Linked DNA regions of Homo sapiens. The protein of the gene in region 3 purifies or fractionates together with the protein of the main gene of each other region. This does not show direct contact. Each region holds a gene or a part of one and is shown on either strand. Other genes may lie near its edges.

The links. The genes of interacting proteins can lie anywhere in the genome.
Region 1: the proteins of DIAPH1 (region 3) and SOWAHC purify together in Homo sapiens (affinity purification with mass spectrometry; 2 studies listed by BioGRID and IntAct, with this or other methods). This does not show direct contact.
Region 2: the proteins of DIAPH1 (region 3) and UPF1 fractionate together in Homo sapiens (co-fractionation; 2 studies listed by BioGRID). This does not show direct contact.

What each region holds. Positions count from the first base shown.
Region 1 is NC_000002.12:109,609,611-109,617,456, forward strand, and holds the start of SOWAHC (ankyrin repeat domain-containing protein SOWAHC), read left to right. Parts: upstream 1-4,753; 5' UTR 4,754-4,879; coding exon 4,880-6,457; 3' UTR 6,458-7,846. Other genes in the region: SEPTIN10 (septin-10), read right to left, coding at 4,188-4,217.
Region 2 is NC_000019.10:18,848,607-18,856,051, reverse strand, and holds part of UPF1 (regulator of nonsense transcripts 1), read right to left. Parts: intron 5,978-7,445; coding exon 5,810-5,977; intron 5,365-5,809; coding exon 5,184-5,364; intron 3,918-5,183; coding exon 3,756-3,917; intron 3,066-3,755; coding exon 2,981-3,065; coding exon of another isoform or gene 2,948-2,980; intron 2,801-2,947; coding exon 2,702-2,800; intron 1,476-2,701; coding exon of another isoform or gene 1,452-1,475; coding exon 1,343-1,451; intron 1,174-1,342; coding exon 1,014-1,173; intron 929-1,013; coding exon 810-928; intron 128-809; coding exon 1-127. UniProt on the Homo sapiens protein: RNA-dependent helicase required for nonsense-mediated decay (NMD) of aberrant mRNAs containing premature stop codons and modulates the expression level of normal mRNAs.
Region 3 is NC_000005.10:141,573,866-141,581,310, forward strand, and holds part of DIAPH1 (protein diaphanous homolog 1), read right to left. Parts: intron 7,019-7,445; coding exon 6,879-7,018; intron 5,332-6,878; coding exon 5,223-5,331; intron 4,761-5,222; coding exon 4,650-4,760; intron 4,479-4,649; coding exon 4,360-4,478; intron 3,727-4,359; coding exon 3,610-3,726; intron 3,007-3,609; coding exon 2,891-3,006; intron 2,430-2,890; coding exon 2,365-2,429; intron 1,282-2,364; coding exon 1,102-1,281; intron 344-1,101; coding exon 1-343. UniProt on the Homo sapiens protein: Actin nucleation and elongation factor required for the assembly of F-actin structures, such as actin cables and stress fibers. Binds to the barbed end of the actin filament and slows down actin polymerization and depolymerization.

The DNA.
Region 1 (7,846 bases), on a different chromosome or scaffold from region 3:
GCCTCAAAAAAAAAAAAAAAAAAAGATCAAGAAAGAATTAAGAATCACAACTTCAAGACAGAAAGTAAAACAAATGAGAAGCCTCTTAGATACGAAAATTATCCTCACTGAAGAAAAACTGAGAAGGAATGAGAAAAAAAGTTCAGAAGCATTGTAGCTAAAACAGGAAATGACAAATGCGGACAGGAATTGCAAAGATTTGGTCACCACTTAAAAGGTAAGGATAACTGAAGAAGTGGAAAATTATGGCTGTGTTTCTCGGGAGATGAAAAGGCAGTCAGTGGACTGTACTCAACACTATTTCAAGATCCACTATCTCAGTCAACAATAACTAATTATACAGCCAGGATCTCCTGAATCATAAAATGATGCAATTCCTAATAAGGAGCATGGTGGAGATAATGGCAGGGACAATATGACACAGAGCAGATCTCACAATCACTAGCTGTGATTCCTTAAGCGAGACACTAAACTTCCCTGAGGTGTTTTTTTTTTTTTAGACAGAGTCTCACTCTGTCGCCAGGCTGGAGTGCAGTGGCGCGATCTCAGCTTACTGCAACCTCCACCTCTCAGGTTCAAGTGATCCTCCTGCCTCAGCCTCCCAAGTAGTTGGGACTACAGGCGCATGCCACCAAGCCCAGCTAATTTCCTGTATTTTTAGCAGAGATGGGGTTTTACGGTGTTGGCCAGGATGGTCTCAATCTCTTGACCTCATGATCCATCCATCTGGGCCTCCCAAAGTGCTGGGATTACAGGTGTGAGCCACTGCGCCCAGCCACTTCCCTGAATTTTAATATCCTCTTCTATTAAAAAAAAGGTCTGGGCCGGGCATGGTGGCTCACGCCTGTAATCCCAACACTTCGGGAGACTGAGACGGGTGGATCACCTGAGGTTGGGAGTTCAAGACCAGCTTGACCAACATGGAGAAACCCTGTGTCTACTAAAAATACAAAAAATTAGCCGGGCGTGGTGGCACATGCCTGTAATCCCAACTACTCAGGAGGCTGGGGTAGGAGAATCGCTTGAACCAGGGAGGTGGAGGCTGCGGTGAGCTGAGATCATGCTATTGAACTCCAGCCTGGGTGACAAAGCGACATTCCGTCTTCAAAAAAAAAGAGAGAAATGAAGAGAAATACTATGTACATGAGTTAGAAGACTCAACATAGTAAAGCTATCAATTCTCCCTAAATCGATATAAACATTTAATGTAATTCCTCTCGAATCCCAGCAAAATTATTTGTAAATATAGATAAGACGATTCTAAAACTTACACAGAGAGGCACAGAACTAGAATAGCTAAAAATCTGGGGGAGAGAAGAATAAAGTGGGAGAAATCAGTCTACCTTATTTCAGACTTACACAGCTACAGGAATCAAGACTGCGTGCTAACGGAGAACCCAGAAACAGACTGAAACAGACCCACACAAATATGCTCAACTGACTTTTGACAAAAGTGCATCAACAACTCAATAATGGAAAGGGAGCCTATTCAACAAATGGTGCTGGAGCAACTGGACATCCATAGGCCAAAAAATGGCCCTCAACTTAAGTCTGACACCTAACAGAAAAATTAACTCAAAATGGGTCATAACATAAATGTAAAACATAAACTATAAAACTTTTAGGAAAAAAATAAGAGAAAATCTTTGGGATCTAAGGTTAGGCAAAGAGTTCTTAAACTTGACACCAAAAGCACAATCCATAAAAGGAAATAATGATAAATTTCAACAAAACTGAAAACTTTTGCTTTGCAAAAGACCCTGTTAGAAGATGAAAAGATAAACTACAGACTGAAAGAGAACATTTTCAAATCACATATCTGAGAAAGGACTGGAATCTAGTATACCTAAAAAACTTTAAACCCAACAGAAAAAAAAAATCTAACTAGAAAATAGGCAACATGTTGGGAGGCTGAGACGGGAGGATCGCTTGAGCCCAGGAGTTTGAGACCAGCCTGGGCAACATGGTCACACCCCTGCCTCTACAAAAAATACAAAAATTTAGCCGGCTGTGGTGGTGCACACCTATAGTCCTAGCTACTTGGGGTGGCTGAGGCAGGAGGATCGCTTGAGCCCAGGAGATTGAGGCTGAGGTTGAAGTGAGCCATCTTGGCACCACTGCACTCTAGCCTGGGTGACAATACGAGAAATCCAAGTTAAAATCACCATGAGGTGTCACTATATACCTATAAGAATGGCTAAATTAAAAATAAGGACACCACCAAATGCTGGTAAGGATGTGCAGAAACTGGACCTCTCATACTTTCCTGGTAGGGATGCAAAATAATACAGCCATTCTGAGAAAGTCTGGCAGTTTCTTACAAAACTAAGCATGCAACTACCATATGACCCAACAATTGTATTCCTGGGCATCTATCCCAAAGAACTGAAGACTTATGCTTACATTATGAGTTACTGTACATGAATGTTTATAGCAGCTTTATTGCCAATAGCCAACAACTGAAAACAACCTAGATATCCTTCAAACTGTGGCACAATCATACCATGGAATACTACCCCAGCAAACTGCAGATATATGCAACAACCTGGATGAATCTCCAGAACTTTGCTGAGTTGAAAAAAAAAAAATCCAATCTCAAAAGGTTACTAACTGGGTGATTCCATTATATAAGTCTTGGAATGACAAAATTATAAGAATAAAAACGAATCACTGATTGTCTGGGGTTAAGAAGGAGGCAGGGCAGGAAAGAAGTGTGTGTGGTTATAAAAAGGCATTAAGGGATCCTCCTGGTCCTGGGAACATCCTTTATCTTCACTGTATCAATCAATGACAATATGCTGGTTGTGATATCGTACTATGGGTTTGCCAGATCTTATTGTGGAAAGGTGGATAAAGGGTACAGGGTTCTCACTATACTGTATTATTTCTTACAACTGCATATTAATCTACAATTAACGCAAAATACAGTTTAATTCGAAAATAAGTAAAGTTAGCCTCAAAGCAAATTAAGTACAATTAAAAATAAATCTAACATCAGCTAAATGAAGTGTTCTCTTCTGCTCAAGCTTGTTTGGATACGTAATCTATGAATCAAAGAATTTATAAAACACATTTTCCTCACCAGGACCCCTCAATTTTCCCTCACTCACACATGCACACAAACACAGCAACTGAGACAAGGGGGTCCAGACAGAAAATTTGAGATTTTTAAAAAATACGCGATAGAATGAAAAGAGACCTGGGCTGAATCAGGGAGAAAAATCTTTGTCCAGGTTCTATAAAACAAACCAACGGTGTCACTTTGGACGGATCCTCTAATCTCTCAGCCTGCAATCTGAACTGTTTCTACAATTTAAACTTCTCATGTAGGAGGTTGCTTAGTAGAGTGGTTCTCAAACTTTTTGGTCTCCAGCCTCCAAAGAGCTTTTGTTTACACAGATGAAAACCACCAATGTTTACTATCAAAAATTAAAAGGGAGAATTTGTTTTTAAGAATACACAGGCATCGGGCCTCCAAACGGCGGTGAGATCACTCCATACCATGTAGCCTTTGGAAAACTCGATGTACACGACCTTGGTACTATTAACGAAAATAGTTGTAACCACACTTGGAAAACCGCTGGCTTACTAACAAGCGAGATAAATCTACAAAAGTAACTGGAAAGGTTCAAAACAGTGAACAAACGCGTTCTTTTAGAGTACAAAAGAGTCAAGGCGGGAAAAAAACGGTTTAAAATCCCAATGGAGGAAAACTTGGACGACCACACCATCGGATAAAACGGGAGAGCTTTTGAAAAGCCAGGGGAGCCGGGCTTTCTCCCGGCGGCAGGGAGGCTCGGAAGTGCTCACGGCTGCAAAAGATGACCGCTATTCAATCAGTCCGCACTGCGCCTTCAACTCCGTTATAGCCGTAAGAGACCCACAAACACCGCTGTGGATGTAACTTTTGGCAAAGACCGGGAAGTCGTTCAAGAACTCTCCCACCGTCCCGACGCTGGCGCCGCGCCCCGCGAACCGGGGTCCGGCCGCGCCCAGGCTCCGCAGAGGCTCCTCTCCCGCCCCAGGCGCCCGGCCGCCGCGGAAGCCGGGGAGCACTGGGCGGGCGGGGCCGGAGGGGGCGCGGGTCACAATCCCGGGCCGGACCAGGGGGCCGGTGGGTCGAGGGCGGGAAGTCCCGCGGGGGCCGGGGAGCGCGGGGCTGGGGCCCCGGCGTCGGCGGGACTCACCAGGTGCCGCGCCACCTCGGAGGAGGCCATGGTCGCGGGCAGGGGCACGGTGAAGCGGCTGTATCAGCCCGGCCCCGAGCGGCTGGTCCCGGCGACGGCGGCGGGAAGGCCGGAGGGCAGAAGCAACGGGCGGGGCGCGAGGCTAGGCTGCCTCCGCGACGGGGAAGGGACAGGGGCGGGGCCGAGCTGGAGGCCTCCGGGGGCGGGGTTGGGGCGGACGCCCTGTGGTGCGCGCTGAGCGTTTTGCCTGCGCCAAGCGAGCCCCTCACAGGAGCTACCCTCGACGCCTGAGGACTGAGCGTCAGCGTTGGGGCGGGCTGAAGGAGAGCTGGGACTCCAGGAAGACGGCGCGAGGAATGCAGGCGGGAACTGCGGAGCAGTGATTGCGGCCCTCGCGAGGCCGGAAGTGGGCGGGCCTTGAGGCGAGGCCGCCCTAGGTAGGTGTGGCCGAGACAGCGGGGAGCGGAAGTGGGCGTGGCCTGGTGGCGTGGGCGCGGGGCGGGGGTGCGGGGGGCGTGTCCGCCCGGGCGCGGCCCAGTGAGGCGGTGGCCGAGTCCTCTGGCCTCAGACGCGTAGGCTGGCAGCCCGCTGAGCCCGCCAGACTCCGCCGCCGTCGGGAGCCGGCCGCTGGGAGCCCGTCGCTATGGGACCGCGCTGAGCCGCCCGCTGGCGGGGGAGCAGCGCGGTCGAGGATGGAGGGGCCGGCAGAGTGGGGCCCCGAGGCGGCGCTGGGCCCCGAGGCGGTGCTGCGCTTCCTGGCGGAGCGCGGGGGCCGGGCCCTGCACGCCGAGCTGGTGCAGCACTTCAGGGGCGCCCTAGGCGGCGAACCGGAGCAGCGCGCCCGCGCCCGCGCGCACTTCAAGGAGCTGGTGAACGCCGTGGCCACTGTGCGCGTCGATCCCGCCGACGGCGCCAAGTACGTGCACCTCAAGAAGAGGTTCTGTGAAGGGCCGTCCGAGCCCTCCGGGGACCCGCCGCGAATCCAGGTGACCGCCGAGCCCGAGGCCCCCGACGGCCCTGCCGGGCCCGAGGCGCGCGATCGGCTCCCCGACGCGGCGGCCCCGGAGTCGCTCCCTGGACAGGGCCGCGAGCTGGGCGAGGGAGAGCCCCCCGCCCCCGCGCACTGGCCGCCCCTGAGCGCCGGGGCTCGCAGGAAGAACTCGCGGCGCGACGTGCAGCCCCTACCGCGGACTCCAGCCCCGGGGCCCAGCGAGGACCTGGAGCTCCCGCCACATGGCTGCGAGGAGGCGGACAGGGGCAGCTCCCTTGTGGGGGCTACCGCACAGAGGCCGGCCCGCCAGAACCTCCGTGACCTGGTGATGGGCAGCTCCCCGCAGCTGAAGAGGAGCGTGTGTCCCGGGGGCAGCAGCCCGGGCAGCTCCTCCGGGGGAGGACGCGGCAGAGGCGGGGGCGACTCAGACAGCGCATCGGTGGCCTCGTCGTCCGCGGAGGAGGAGAGCAGCGGCGGAGGCTCCGTGACGCTGGACCCCCTGGAGCACGCGTGGATGCTCTCTGCCTCCGATGGCAAGTGGGACAGCCTGGAGGGCTTGCTCACCTGCGAGCCCGGCCTGCTGGTCAAGCGGGACTTCATTACCGGCTTCACTTGCCTGCACTGGGCCGCCAAGCACGGCAGGCAGGAGCTTCTGGCCATGCTAGTCAACTTCGCCAACAAACACCAGCTGCCGGTGAACATCGACGCCAGGACGAGCGGGGGTTACACCGCCCTGCACTTGGCAGCCATGCACGGCCACGTGGAGGTGGTGAAGCTGCTGGTGGGGGCCTACGACGCCGATGTGGACATCAGGGACTACAGTGGGAAAAAGGCCTCCCAGTACCTGAGTCGGAGCATCGCCGAGGAGATCAAGAACCTGGTGGGAGCCCTGGACGAGGGTGACGGGGAAAGCGCCGCGGGTAGCGGCGGCGGGCGCTGGAGGCTTTCAAAGGTGCTTCCCTCGCATCTCATCACCTACAAACTCTCACACGCCCTAGAAGATGGAGGGGACCATCACCACCATCACCACTCGGCTGAGGGGTGGGTCGGAGGCAAAGCCAAGGATCCAGGGCGCAAAGCCTCGGGCAGCTCTAGTGGACGTATAAAACCCAGACTCAACAAAATCCGATTCAGAACCCAGATCGTCCACACCACACCCTCTTTCAGGGACCCAGAGCAGCCGCTGGAGGGCAGGGGGGAGGAGGGAGTGGGGGAGGAACGACCTGTTAAAGGCCACTCGCCCTTCACATTGAGACCAAAGTCCAATGTATTTGGGTAAAAATTGCTTCTTTTAGAAAATGCAAAGGTTTATTTGTCTTAATAAATTGAATACTAGGTGTTGTAAGGAAGTGAGACCAGAAGGACAAGCTAAATTATGCATTCTTACTTGAGGGATCGGAATGGATGGGGCGGAGTTCTCTTCAGGCTAGCCTTCTGGGAAAAGTGGATGTCTTTTTCAGAGATTCATCATACCTTGACCTGTACCTCTTCTCTGCCCTCCACTTCCCTGCCCTGGAGTCCGTTTCTGGAGACTAGAAATGTATCTAAATTGGGGGAACAGAATGAATGAATTAATGAATGAGAGTTCCTTTGCTTTAACCATTCCTGGATGCCTGCAAAGTAAGGAATAATGCAGTTTTTATGTATCTGATTTTATAAGGGGTTACTCTTTCAAGAGTAACAAAAAAATGCAAACTGTAATGAAACTACATTGTATTTCTAAGTGTGAAAACGACAGGCTGCCCCGTTTTTACTAATTGCATTTGCATTTTAAGGTACTACTGAAGGTCAGATCAAAGTTGAAATGCAAAAATACTAATTAGAGAATAATGTGAATAAAATGGGAATCTTCTTGGTATTTTATGTGTATTGTAAGTAGCAGTTAAATTATTTTTTTAAAAGCAATTTCAGTTTTAATCACTGAACAAAAGAAACAGGCAACATTCACTTCTGTAGTATGGTTTCCACCTATCTCTAACACCACTATTAAGGTACACCAGTGTTAAGGTACATTAATAACTACACAAAATTTTATTTAAAGAGAACACTTAGCAGCCTATGATAGTTTTCAATAAAATGTTGCCTCTCTTTCGGATTCTCACTAACTTTTGTTACTATTCTAAAAGTTTGAATTTGCTGGGGTGTTTATTCTGAGGATTATTTAACCATTGTTCTATTTGGCATAACCCTATTTAATGGTGCTTAGAGCTGAATTACCTACAGAAACTGTTTCTGGTTTAAATAATTAGCACAAATTGGCCTAAGTATTCATGAGCCCATGTTTCTGTGAAGTAATTATTAAACCAACTTAATGATTCTTATGTAAGGTACACTTTTTATTTTAATACATTGGTAGTCTCTATGACTTGTAGCAATGTTTTACAAATGTTTAAAATGCTAAACTTAATTTTCCAAGCTTTTCTTGACAATTAGATACCTATCCTGTAGTTACTGAAAATCTGGGTAGTAAATCTACCCAATTAAAATGGCACTTTATAAAAGGGAATAGAGAAGAGATGGGACTATTTCTATATTTAAATGCTGCTGGCTATTCCTTTGTATATAAATGAAAAATACCATTCATTAAAATTAAGTACTCGTTTAAGTATGGTTCTTAATTACATTTCATTCATTTATATTAGAGTAAATGGCTTCATAACTACTTTAA
Region 2 (7,445 bases), on a different chromosome or scaffold from region 3:
AGACACCGGGGAGTCGATGGCCTCACGGCTCTTGGCGCAGAGGCGCACGACCTTTAGCCCCGTCTGGTGGATCTTCTCCGTTAGCTGGTCCACGGCGATGTTGCTCGGAGCACACACCAGCACCGGCCTGCAACACCATTGGGGCAGCTCAGTGCTTACCCAGAGGAAGCTCGGTGAACGTAGTAAGCCAAGACTCTGTTTTTTGAGACAGGGTCTTGCTCTGTTGCCCAGGCTGGAGTGCAGTGGTGTGATCTCAGCTAATTGCAGCCTCAACATCCTGGGCTCAAGCAATCCTCCCACCTCAGCCTCCTGAGTAGCTGGGACCACAGGTGCACGCCACTACCCCCAGCTAATTTCTGAATTTTTTTTTTGTAGAGACGTCTCACCCTGTTCAGGCTGGCCTTAAACTCCTGACATTTTTAACAGGCAGTAATGACACGATGCCGAAGGAGCTCAGATCCAGACAGCCCAGGCTTCACAGCTCTACCCACCGCAAGCAATGCCAAGGCTGGAACTTGCACCATCCCGCCACACTATAAAGTGCCGCACACGGAACTCACGCTGCTGCAGCCATGCCCCCCCTGCCCCCAGTTTTCTAAACCAGTAGCAGACCTGGTTACTAAAATGCAATCCTAAGGTTGGAGCTGACACGAATAATGTCACATAGAGAGCGGTAGGCACCATGGCGACACTACCCGCCACGTGCTCTCTTCGGTGTGACAGAGCCCAAGGCTCCCAGCACCAGGCCTTCCATCTGGCCACCCTAAAGCCCTCCCGGGTCTTGCCCGCAAGGGCCGTGTCAGCCCTACCCGTTGCCTTGCCGGGCCAGGTGGTAGACGATGGTGGCCGACGTCACCGTCTTCCCCGTGCCTGGCGGGCCCTGGATCAGGCTCAGTGGTCTTTGCAGCACAGTCTTCACGGCATAAACCTTCAATACAAGCGGCCGTTAGGGGCAGCCTCCGCTTGCGTCCCGGCCCATGGGCGAGGCCCCGCGCGCTGAGGACGGCGCGCACCTGGGAGTGGTTGAGGTCGGGGAGGCCCTGCGCCGTGAAGCGCTTGGGCAGCTGGCACTTGATGATTACGTCCTCCACCTCGTGGCCCAACAGCTTGTGGTAGATGTAGCCAGACACCGAGGTCTCATCCACGGCAAACGTTTTCAATGCGCTCTGCATCCTGTGAGGAGGGTTTGGGGTTGGCGACACGCACAGCTGTGGCCGCCTCTCCGACATCCTGAGTTTGCAGAGCTGGGTGGGGAACCCCACTCCACAGTGACGGGGAGGGCTCATAAAGATGCCACAGGTGGCAACCAGGGAACAGGGGGCAGTGATGGGAGAAGACGTACCTGTCAAAGGAGGTCGACTTCCACACAAAATCCACCTGGAAGTTGTGAGTCACCTCCACAGGTGCACCCACGCTGCTCCGCAGCTCAATGGCGATCTCATCGCCATAATCTGTGTGCTGAGTTAAGTTTGCATCCTTGTCAAAAGCCGGGCTGACCTTTCTGGGCCACCCTTGGTACACGCTCTTTAAACAGCGTTTTTAAAATTTAGTTACTTAAGACACCGCTGGCTCTGCACCAAACGCTAAAAACGTGCAGCCAACACCAGACCAGAGACCAGAAGGACAGCATCCTTGAAGAAAGACTCTACCTCACCATGAGCCGGTGTCCCACCCCCAGCCAGCCTGGAGTTCCTCCTTGCCACTCCCAGCCACCCATCTAGGCCCCTTTCAGAGACGCAGAGGGCGGCAGCGAAGCCAGCAGCGCTCACCAGCAGGGAGCAGCCACATCCTGGGCCCCAGGACCTCACCGGGAGCTCCTGCACATGTGGCCAGCAGGGGCAGGCAGAGCTCGCAGAACCCAGCTTTGGCCACAGCAGCTCTTCTCACAGTTCCACAGAAACAACACCCCTCCCAGTACGGCCAAGCAAAAGGCTCCACATACACAAGCAAACTGCCCTCCAGGAGGCTGTGGCCGGTAGGCAACACCCTTCCCTCGACCCCGAGCCCCAAAACCGGTCTCACGTGTTCAGGATGAGCTTGTCAGGCCCAGGGTGGGTGTGGGAGACAACTCTCCCTACCCCTGTGGAGGCCACCGCTGAATGGTCAGGCCCCAGCAGCATTGGCCAGTCACCAAGAGGCAGCCTGAGTCTGACCCGCGGTGTCTTCTCCCAGGACTCCTCCCCACCCAAGCCTCTGACTGCACCTGTGCCTTACAGCTGCCCCACTCTGGCCGGCAGGCTGCATCACCATGAGGTCACTGCACATTCCCAAACATGGCCTGGGAGCAAGTGTGTGCTCAGAGGGTCTGCATGTGACCACTGGCTTCTGGAACCTCCGTGTGCAGAGTCAGCGTCCAGGTAAGGCGCTCCTGCAGCCACATTAACCTCCAGAGTCAGTCCAGGGACGTGCCACACAAGCGGCATACATTAACTTCCAGAGTCAGCCCAGGGACGCGCCACACAAGTGGCATCACCAACATCACCATTCGGGCAGAGGGGAAGCAACCATACAACCAGCTGTCCCCTGAAGGTGAAGGCCCTGTGATTCTCCTAAGAGCAGTGGAGGGCGATGCCAACCAGCACCCACCACAGAGCATGAGATGCTGGCCCAGCAGTGAGCATCAAATCCACAGTGGCCTCCACCTGATGCCCCCACTTTCCTCTCCCACCAGCCGGCCACACCCTCTTCACATGAAGGATACTATCAGGGACCTTGATGACGTGGCCGATCCCTTTCCACAGGGGCGCAAGGTCCCCTTTGTACCGCAGGCATATCTCATCCCCCTGCATGAGCCGCATGTCTTGAGGTAAAAAAGTGAGAGAGGTGGCCATTTTAACCCACGCCGTCGCTTCCACCAGGGAGAGTTCAAATTAAGGGGCACTTTACAAGGGTGGAACTAGGAATTTATGCTACTTATGGTCACAAATATTTTAAAACTTAAAATCACCTCTTAACCAAATTATGACTAAATCCTCATTACCAGAGTCAGTCTTGGGCAAAGTGAAGTAGGCGATTCTCTTCTTGTTAAGGCCCAGGTCCCACCTGACAGTGATGTTATCTTGAGTCTGAGCACATGAAAAACAAGAGCCCCGGTTAGCCTCCAGCACAGGCCCGGGCCTGGCCTCCACATGCCCGAGGCCCCATGAGGCGGGCCCTACAGCAAGCCTCTGCCGTGAGAGCAGGCGCCGTGAGTGGCACCTGCAGCCCCAAATGCCACCAAGGGCACATCTGAAAGAGAAGCCATTAGGAGTCCCCGGAACACACACAGGCCAATCCCGTCTGGAGGCTTCACCGCACACCAGAGGCCTCCGTGGCCAGGGAGCAGCTGCTGTGGGAGGGAGGAAGAGAGAGAGGAGGGGAGGGAGGGACAGAAAGAGGAGGGGAGGGAGGGACAGAAAGAGGAGGGGAGGGAGGGAGGGGAGGTCAGCGCTCCAGGGCTCCCGTTGCCTAAATGTGGTCTTCACAGGGATCACGCCCGAGTCTAACTCTCGCAACTGTGGGCAAAGCTGTGGACCCCACTGGGAAAGATGTGTTGGATTTAAACAGAAAACACTGAGGCTGATGTCAGATCTGAGGGCGGGGGCTCAGACCACCGGGCTGCCAGGCCCGGATCCGCAAGTTCCAACTCTCAGGTGTCGCGGCTGCAGCCCACATCAGCTCCCACAGCCTGGAGAGAAAACCTCCCTCTGGAAGCCTGAGGAGAGAGCTGTGAGAGCCAGAGCCCACCCCAGGCCAAGCCCTCTCGCACACATCACCTGGGACTCCTTCAGCTTCTTGTCGTAGTCGGCCTCCAGCTTGACCAGGGGCCCGAATATGTTCTGGTACTGGTAGGCGTCCTCGTACCGCAGGAGGACATGCTGCGGCTCCTCGTCCACCCCCGGCTTCTCCAGGTCCTCCAGCGTGGCAGAAGGGTTTTCCTAGAAGACAACAACACCGCGCCACACTCGTCCTGTTTTTCCCTACATGCAAATGAACGAGGGCGCAGAGGCACCAGAGGGATGGAGCACACATGCCGCTTCTCAGAATGGGCCACGGTGGGTGGCATGGAGGGGTTCTGGCGCAGCCCCACCTGCAAGGAGAACCCTGGGAACGGGAACTCCATGCCACACAGGGAGCTGCACACCGGCCTGGCCCATGCCTGGGCCTCAGCTGCTGCTCCGCACCCCAGCGGGGTTCCGGTACTTGGGTGAACCTGCCTACAAAGCCCCAGGCACCAGCCTGACACACTGTCCACAGCAGAGGGCACCTTCAGAGCCAGCTGCTTCCTCCAAGTATGCCCAGCTTGTGAACGAGAGCAGCTAACCCGCCTCGCAGGCTGCCACAAAGACCACCGGTTTCTCTCGCTGTGTCCACAGCCCGGGAGGCCTGTCTCCCACGTCTGCTAACCCTGAGCCAGACCAACATGGGCCCGCAGCTCTTCCCCTGGGGGCCAGCTCCCTCAGTGAGTGCCATGCTGGTGGGGACAGGACATTTTCTGGGCTGTTCAGATATAAACGGGAATCATGAAATCATCTGGCAACCGGAAAATCCAAGTGGAAAGGTACCCGGCTGAACAATGCTTAAAAAAATATTTTAACTTGCACTTCATTTCCTATGTGAGATTTCTGACTGAATGGGAGGCAAATGAAAACTTCTAGCCTAGTTATTAGAACTACTTTATCACAAAATCCTAAACAGCTGGAAGCACAGAAAGGCTTCCGTGGGGAAAAGTGAGGGCTGTCTGTGGAAGGAGGGCCAGGCACCCACTACTTGACCCGGCACCCTCTCCTCTCCCCTCTGTCTCAGCTGACTGTGCCGACCTCGACACCAACCTATTTCCCCAGGACATTCTCGCAGCCCACCTGTCTGGGCAGGTTCAGGCTCTGCAGGACAAGTCTGCCCACAGCCAGCCCCATTCTTCCCCTCCCACCACCCATCCTCACCCCGGCAAGACAAGAAAAATTCCAGCAGCCAGAGCTTTCCTTTCCCCAAGGCCAGGATCTTCTCGGTCAGGTAAGGCTGCCTGGATGGAAGGTGACCAAGGTGCCCTGAGGTCATTCCACGTAGAGGTGGCAGAGGTCTGCCTGAATTCCTTTCAGAGAATCTCCAGCGGTCTCACTGGGTCAAGCCGTCTCTGAAGACACTCCCCTCCCCGCAACCAGAAACCACACGAAGGCACGGGTCGGCCCGCTGGGCAGCCCCACCTTCCACAGCTCCTCCAGCTTGTTGATCTGCTGTGCCGTGATCTGGCGTGCCCGCAGCTGCTCCTGCTCGGAGGGGATCTTGACCAGCCAGGACAGGAAGCAGCGGTCCTGGATCAGCGGCTGCCACTGCGAGCTGTCCCAGTTGATGTCCTTGAGGCTGCTCTGGCTGGCACAGGGCTGCCTGCAGAGCGGGAGGGGGCCGTGAGGACCAGCTCCCGTCCCTGAAGCCCCGGAGCAGGGAGGGCCCCCTCCCATGCTGACCTTTCACCCAAAGGGGCATGCCCTGCATTTTATTATGTGATCACATTACCTTCAAACTGTTAGTAATAAATCGCATCTCCCTGTGCACTTGAGCTCTGAACTCTTAAAACTCAGAACAGACTTTGTTTTTACAGAATTGTTTTTATGACTTAGCCAGAACGCCCCAAAAGAGTTACACGGCACTGCCGACTCCTTAACAAGCCTCAGCGCCTAAACGCTCTCATGCCTCACCCTTCAGCAAAAACCATCTTTGGAGGACAACTCCCTGGAGTTAGAGCCACGGCTGGGCTGGGCTGGGCCAAGGCTTGTGAGGAGACGGCTGGAGCTTAAAGGTCACCCCCAGGAGACATCTGGGGACCACTCACCTGCACAGCAGCACCACCACTGAGTCAGCTTTGGCCGGGATGAAGCCGAGGAGGAAGACGTTGCGACAGCCGCAGTTGTAGCACTCCAGGACTGTCTCCCCCAGGGGCCCGTCCTTGTGCAGGGTCACCTCTTTGCATTTTGCCCTCACAAGGTGATTTACAATGTGGCTGAAACCAGGAAATGATAAACGGTTAACACCCAAAATTTGGCTTTTCACCACTTCCAATTTTCGGGCCCCTGTTAAAAGTTCCGGTACCGTTCACGGTCCATTAGCAGAGGCAGTCACACCTCATCCATCTGGCATCTCTGGGGGCCAGCCCTCCCCCAAACTAGCTCCCCACTGAGCACAAAAATCAATCCCAACTTGAACCACTTTAAGGAAAACTTCCTTAACACGGTTCACATAGTTCCTGCCTTTTTTAAAAATCCTGCTTTCTTAAATCCAACTTATCAGGCCTAATTTAACCCATTGTTGGCCCAGGGCTGCTGTGGGGTCAGAGACATTTCCCACAAGGCCCCAGCCCCTTCTTTCCAAGGTCAACCCCCGCCACCATCTTCTGTGGCTTCTTCTGAAATCACTCCTCAGAGGCCCTGTGCCTACTTCCAGGAGCAACAGTCCCTCCTGCTTTGCTGCAGGCCGGGAAATCTGATAAGCAGGCGACTGGAAACCCCCGCAAAAAGCAGCAAAAAGGTTGAGCAGAGGCGGGGGCGGTTCTACAGAAGCCCAGGGCTGTGTGTGAAGCCCTGGCTGGCTCGGCTCCTTCCTTGCTGCGACGTGGCCAGGACACTGCTCACCTAAACCGCGGTCTGGGCTGAACCCTGCCCTGTGCCAAGCCAGCCACCCTCCAGCACCTATCTGCCGTATCTAACAAGGATGCCCAGCTGCTCTGCCTTTGGGCTCTTCCGGTGTCTCCAGCAGCTCTGAACACGCCTGCAGGGCCTCCCAGCCTTCCTCACCGCGCCCTCTCTCTTCCCCTCTGGAAAACCATTCTTGCCAAAAGCTTCAGCTCAGCTAATCTTCTAACCCTTCTCCCTGCCACGAGGCCCAGGATTCTCTAACCAGCCATGGCCACTCTGAGCATCTCCAAAGCCCGACTCCACTCTGGAGCCCTGCCGGCCACGTGGGCAGAATCAGCTGTCTCCGTGTCTTCTCATGCATCCTCACCCTGTCACAGCCAAGATCCCTAAGGGCCAGCGGCTGCTTCCTCACCTTCCCCTGGGCCTCGCACAGAATGCTCAGTGGTGCTTGGCTCAAGCCTGTTGTTTCTCAGAGGCCCTTTTGCTCACTTCCCTGTTCTTGGCTATGCTGACCGGAAGCTGGGGTTGCCAGCTAAGAGAAGTTTTATTTAGTTGCTTTTCCTGAACAAGAGGAACTAAATGCAAACATAGCAACACTTAAATTACCCAGAAGATTCTGAAAATGGGACAAGAATGTCTTTTGGTTATCCAGAAGATACCCTTCTTTAAAATCTTTTAAAAACAGCAGCCCCTTTCTGGCCTTGCTCATAACACCATATTTCAAGTTACTAACTCAGAGATGCCACGAGATCTGACTGCTCCATCTGTAACCCTCCGAGACCCACAGCTGTCAAAGGCACAGGAGGGGCTTGTGTCAGCACAAGTAAGCCTGCCTCC
Region 3 (7,445 bases):
CAACACCCTCAGGCAAAGGAGGGGGTGGAGGGATGGTAGCATCCCCAGACAAAGGAGGGGGTGGAGAGATAGCAGTACCTCCAGGTAAAGAAGGGGGTGAGGAGATGCAAACACCCCCAGGCAAAGGAGGTGGAGGAGGAGGAGGAGGAGGAGGAGGAGGAGGAGTGGTACTATCCCCAGGAGCAGGTGGTGGTGGAATAATAGTGCCAGAGTCACCAGGTAAAGGAGGGGCAGGGGGAACAGGAGCACGACTAGGAACAGAAGGAGGTACAGTAATAGCTGCCGCAGAGAGGGAAGCCATTTCTTTCTTGGCATCTTCCAGTTCCTTTGTCAGCTTGGCAACCTACAGAAATAACATCAATGTGAGTACTTCTCACCCCACTTCAGGGACTACTGGGACTGGAAGGAACCTAATAAACTACTTAATCCAAACTTCTCATGTTACAAATGGAGGAACTGAGAGGAGTCAGAGAGATGACATGATCACCTAAAGTCACACGGCTTGGCAGCAGAGCCAAAACTAGAATTCAGGTTTTCATGTTCTTAGTTCAGCATGCTTTGTATTAAGAAGACAATTTCAACCTTTATGTTAAACCCTCCCTTGATTAGAAAATGTAAAGGTCAAGTAAATTAAATGTTCTAGTTATATAACTAATATATGTGCTACACAGATGATTATATAACCACATAAGTAATCAAGTTATCAGACATCAAAGATCATTTAAGTATTTACTACTGCAGAGAGAGTGTGTAAGGATAAATCTGTGCAGAGGTGACTAAAATAACAGGAAATTAGTCAATTTTTAACAGTTTAGTTTTTATTCCTAATTTATTAGGAGACTTATTACTTTTATTTCTGGGTGGTAATGAAACTTACTTTATTCTTAATGTTTTTCTGTATTTTCCAGATTTTCTGTCTTATGTATTACTTACCCCCAACACAAACCAAAAACCAGTATATTATTTTTAAAATATGCACCATGTAACTAGATTACCTATTAGTAGCTGAACCCTCCCTAGGAGCGAGATGACTGACTCCTGTTCCAAGCCATGTGCATCCTGAGGTTACAGGTCATTCTGCCTTCCCTGCTCAGGCATTACCTCTCCTGTGAGCTGGGACACCTCTGCTTCCAGGTCCTGTTTCTCTGTGGCAATTTGCTGCTTTTCAGAATGCAGTGCATCTTTTTCTCCCTGAAGATCTTGAAGCTTCTGCTCAAAGTCACTTTCCATCTTTTTCATTTCCACCTGTAGCTCATGTCGGGCTGTTAACTCTGAGTCCAACTAGAGAAAAAACGAATCAGGCTCCCAGCAAGCTCTCCATCTCAGTAAGAAGCACAAGTATTATTACCCATAATTCTCCCTACCTCCTCTTTTGCCTGGGGGTGCTGGAATCCCCCCACTGCCTCCTGTTCTGGGCCAGTACTTGATTTACAGAGCTCATAAATCCAGGCCATGCTCGGGGGAAAAAAGCACCATGATTCTGACCTTAAAATCAAGGTTTGGCTGGGCGGAGTGGCTCACACCTGTAATCCCAGCACTTCGGGAGGCCGAGGCAGGTGGATCACCTGAGGTCAGAAGTTCGAGACCAACCTGTCCAACATGGTGAACCCTAGCCTCTACCAAAAATACAAAAATTAGCCGGGCATGGTGGTGGGCACCTGTAATCCCAGCTACTTGGGAGGCTGAGGCAGGAGAACTGCTTGAACCCAGGAGACAGAGGTTGCAGTGAGCCGAGATCGCGCCACTGCACTCCAGCCTGGATGACAGAGTGAGACTCCGTCTCAAAAAAAAAACAAATAAAAATAAAAATGAAAATAAAACAAGGTTAAAGGAGAGGGGAATCAGTTCATTTCCACAGATTCCCTATTTTTATAGTTAAAAAAAATAAGATTTTAAAGGTATTTAACGAGGACGACCATGGTAGTACAATCCCAATATTCTCTAGGATCAAAAACCTATTAACCACAATAAACGTTCTTAAAAACTGAAGAGAAAAAGAGAACTCAGACATCCTCTAGTTCTATTGCTCTAAGGACCCCAGTTCCTATTGTTCTAGGGGTAAGAGGCCTAAAATGCCAAGCAAACCTGAGAGTGCCATTACTATTACATGAGTATCATCTGTCTTTCTTTTCCTGCCCAGTAGCCCAAGAACTGAAAGTCCACCACTAGAGCTCCCTATGAAGACATCCATATCACTTTCTCCAATGACTACCCTATACTGGAAAGGTTTCCCCTGGGAACTACACTATTGGGTGCTAAACGCTTCCAAAATACCACAGAGGAAAACTGTCTCATAGATCAGGAAAATAATAATTCTCAAAGAAAGATATACTCAAACACATGTCTTTGGTCTCTCATATGCACCTTCTTTTCCAGCTCTGCAGCTTTGGCTTCAGATTTCTCCACCTTTGTCTTATCAATCATTTGATCTGAAAAGAAGAAGAGTCAGTAAGTAAAGCTCCTAATTCTCTTGTTCTATTTCTTTCACACTACACCCTTCCAAAGAACAGTCTTTTTGATCATTTTTATTATCTTTCTTAATGTTCTGCACTAGACAAAGAAATGGAACTTTCAGTTAAGTTCAACATGTAATCTGAGTGTGCGGTAAGGCCACCATGCTGGGTGGCAAGAAGAATGCCTATGAGTGATATTTTTGACTCTCTGAGACCACCAGGAGTTCCTGCAAAAGGTGCTGGTGTGTGTTTTATCTAAAAATAAACTAAAGACCTATAGATTCCTAGCAAAGATGCTGGTTATGACCTAAGAAAGGACAAAAATAGAACTATCTGGGGACTGGAAAGGTATCTTCTCTGACATTTTCACTGAAACAAGATGCAAAATGAAAGGAAGAAGCAATACTTGGAGGAGCCAGATAGAAGAGTATGCTTACCAATTAATCCCTCAATCTCAATCTGGAGGTGCCGGCACTTGAAGTCAGGATCAGCCCCGTTCTTGTGCAGAACTATCTGGGAAATACATTCTTCAATCAACTTATAGTACTGAGGTCTACAAGAGAATAAAAACAGGGTCATCAAAGGAAAATCAAAATATAATTTTCAGAAGTATTCAGGACCAAGAAAACGTAATTGCTCTGACAACTGAGAGACCTGGAAAAACTTTTGTAAAGTTAACACAAGTATTGCTGCCATGCTAAGAAAACTCCTTTTTCCACATCAGCTACCCTACCCTATCTACTTCAAATAATCAAAACTTCTTGCCATCCGCTCCTAGTGCCAATACTTTCCCATCTAAAAATTTGCGTTTGATCCTTCCTGTGATGGATAGTGCTATTGCTAAATCTATACTTCCAGGAAACTAGAAAGAATTTTAAATTGCCACTTCTGTTTGCTAACATCTTCATCCTATTTACCTACTCCCCTCCAAAAACAGAACGGCATTTCACCTTATACACTCTGACCTCTGCCATAGGGATGCCTTTGAGTTGGATTAAAGAAATAAGACAACTTCCTTTATATCGGTGACTAATGAACCCTAATCTTGGGTCTTTGTCTTTACATTTTCCTTTTACAGAACAATCTTTGAATTTAAGGAATTCACTCTCTCCACTTAGGCTCAAATTCAAAACTTCTCATAAGCACAGCATCTTACCTGGCCTCATAGTCATTTCGGACCAAGAGTAAGTGCTGCAGGATGGAAAGGAAGTGTGGCTCTGCCTTTGAATCCTTCACTGTGTTTAAGAGAATCTGAAAGACTTCATTAAAGTCAGTGGAAAAGGGAAATAGGCTAAGGAAAGCAAATATGCAGAAATTATGTTTGACAGGTGGCTTATTTAACTCTTGAAAAAGCTAGGGAAAAGTAGCAAGACACCACTTCCATTCTACTGGCTGTTCTTCCTGTAAACATCACCAGAAACTTTAAGCTTTCTAAAACGTCCTTTAAGGGACCAGTGAATTGGGTGGTACTATACACACAGAGGATTCCTAGTAAGTACTTGGCTTGAAGATCAGGCAGTAGACAGAAAATAAGAGGTAACTGCCTCAAAGTCACTTACTGAAAATATTAACAGGTAACTAAATTACTCCCTCTGTCAGTCCAAACATCTCTAAAAGCCAGTTCTACATCTTAGTAAGCTAAGCTATCACATTCTAGGAAGTTTACACTGATTTTGATGGCTTCCATGCTCAACAACCCTCAGATCACCTTTACTGACTTCCCTGATCTATGATAAGCTAAGTAAAGCCAGCGCAATAAAAATACACCTGCCTTATTTAATGAGAAGACACATAAGCCTGATGCTCTGTTCTGAGTCATCATCTCCCAAACCATTCCACACAGGGATCAGGGAACTAAATACAATGAATGTCTCATCTGCCTTGAACCTAGTCAGCAAAAGGATATTCCATCTCCATGCGAATGTCATCCAGCCGTCCCTTCAGGTCATAGGAATCCTCTTCCCCTTGTTCATCAAACACATTTAGTTGCACTCTCATATCTTCATTTTCAATCTCTCGAAGGTCCTGTCAACAACAAAAGTAGAAGTCAGGGAACCCAAAAGTATCCTCTGTGGTTAGAAACCTAAGCTTTTCAACCTGGTTTTTAATTGAAAACCAGAATTATCCCCGGGATTATTGGGGCTGTAGAGCAAGAAGGAACCAGTCTAGCCTTTCTAATGAAGTGTAATATCTTACCTGCAACACCTGATGTAGCCCCAAACGCATCAGTTCACTTCTGATGTGAACTCGGAAGTCAAGTTCCTCCGCTGGTGTGATGAGAGCATTGATCAGCTGTAGGCATCCAACCTAAAATAAGAAAATTCAGCAGCTATGTCAATGCTAACTCCTGGAGATCAAGAATCCATTTTCTTTACATGCATTCTTAGGTCCCCAATACAACCTGAAAGATACAATACAAAAACTCTAAAGATGACTTTTCTACTATAGCAATGAGACCTGGTTTGAGTACAGATCCGGAGAGCCTAAACTCTAAATGGTTTCAAGGATTTGAGAGTATATGTTATTGTAGGTCTTGGTTTTCCTAGATTGTAAATAGATATCATGCCTTTTTCCATCTCATAATGAGGAAAACAGTTCATTCTTTACCTTCTTAGAAAGAAGGTTAATCATTTTCCCTTCATAACAGATTCTGAAATGTAAAATATATAGTTGGGAGGCACTCCATGTATTTTATTAAAAGGTCAAATGAATTTAAGTCTGTCCATCTTGAATTCTATTCTTGGGCCCAGTTTCAGGGGATATACATGCCTTCAGTGCAATAGTGGTTCCACTTTTTAATCCATCCAGCAGCGGCTGGAAACGTTCCACTTCATCCATCTCAGCTCTTTCTGTCATTGCCTCCAAAACCCTTTCATTCCTGCCCAAGAGAAAGGAAACGGAGAGAACTTTCCAGGTACTGTGACACGGACACGTATAATGAGTAAATTACACAGGGGCACAGACCGATTAGGAAACAGGACATTATCAGTGTTCCGGATTTCTCACATTATTATTCTCACCACTCAGTTTCCAGAAACTGCTGAAAGCTAAGGACCATCTCTTCAGGGAAATGCATTCCCTACAATCCATCCCTAGGCTCCTGTCCATAAATACCAAATCAAGTCCCCTATTCAATGAAGTATAAATTGATACAACTTTTGGAGGGGCATTTAACAGTACTAATCAATTTCTCATGCATGTAACATATAGTCTACTTCTAGAAATGTATCCAACATATGGGCATAAATGTGAAAGAAGATATGCACAAGGATGTTCACTGCAGTATCATTTGTAAAAATGATCACCTAGAACAGATAGTGAAATCTGCTTTAAAAAATATCTGTAAGTTGGCTGGGCGCAGTGGCTCACGCTTGTAATCCTAGCACTTTGGGAGGCCGAGGCGGGCGGATCACAAGGTCAGGAGTTCGAGACCAGCCTGGCCAATAGGGAGAAACCCCATCTCTACTAAAAATACAAAAATTAGCCAGGCGTGGTGGCGGACTCCTGTAGTCCCAGCTACTCGGGAGGCTGAGGAAGGAGAATCGCTTGAACCTGGGAGGAGGAGTTTGCAGTGGGCCGAGATCGCGCCACTGCACTCCAGCCTGGGGAACAGAGCGAGCCTCCGTCTCAAAAAAAAAAAAGGAAAAAAAAAAAATCTGTAAGTCCAGCAACAGGGGAATTGTTAAATAAATTATAGGCCATACATACATGTATATGGAATACTAAATAGCTACTAAAGATAATAAGGTAGATCTGTAAGTACCGACATAGAAGAAATGTCCAAGATCTACTATTAAAAAGAAACAGGTTGAAAAGAATGATTTAGCTTTGGTTAAACCAAATCCCTCTTCAATAATAAAAATCTATCCTATATATGCAGTTAGTTTTATAGGCATAAGTGTCATTCCTCAGCTCTTAAGATACTATCTTTTGCGGTGGCAGATGTCTAGAATCAAGGGAACGCAATATGTTTGTCTATGCTTAGGAAACGTTCTATGAGACTATACCATGCCATTAACAGTCATTCTCTTTGCAGAATAGGATTTGGCAAAGGGATGAGGCAGTTAAATTTTACTTTATATACTTCTATATCGTTTGAGTTTTAAAAATAACATTGTGCCACTTCTGAATTAAAAAAAAAAAGAATAGTAAAAAGAAACCCTCATCCTAGACAATACAGATATTAATGGAGATATAGGAGACATTTTGCTATACCTCTGATGACCAGTGGAACATTCAGGATAGCACCCATCACTTAGGAATTGTTCTTAAATTTTAAGATGCTTAGTGTTCACTTCTGGGAAGAAACACAATCTTACCTAGTATTTATGACCGAGAGGACACCCAACCAACTCAATTGTCCTCTGAACTAAGAGAAAATGATAAAATTGAAAATGGAGAAGAAAAATTATTCCAGTCACATACATGTCCTCTGGCTGCGGTAGAATACAAAGAGCAGAAAGCAGCTTAGCTGCATCAATCATCATGTTGGGAACAGCAGGATCCATGGCTCTGACCAGCAGTAGGATTCCTTCTTCTGTCTCCAACATGGTCTTGATTCCAAACTGGTAGGACCAAGAACAAAGAAAGGAGGCTGAAAGACGAAAGCATCTAACTGGGGGACAAGTTTACGGGTTGTTATGGGTTGAATGGTGTCCTCTTAAATTCCAGTGTTGAAGTCCCAACCCCCAGTACCTCAAAATGTAACCTCATCTGGAAATATACTCATTGCAAATATAATTAGTCAAGCTACAATGAAGTCCTGCTGGGGTAGAAAGGGTCCTTAATCCAATATGACCAGTGTCCTTATAAAAAGAGGAAATTTGGATATGGATACATACAGAGGGAGAACACCATGTGATCACATAGGCAGAGATCAGGATGATGCATCTACAAGATAAGGAGTGCCAAGGATTGCCAACAAGCTACCAGAAACTAGGAGGGATATGGAACATATTACCATATACAGCTTCAGAAAGAACCAACCGTGCT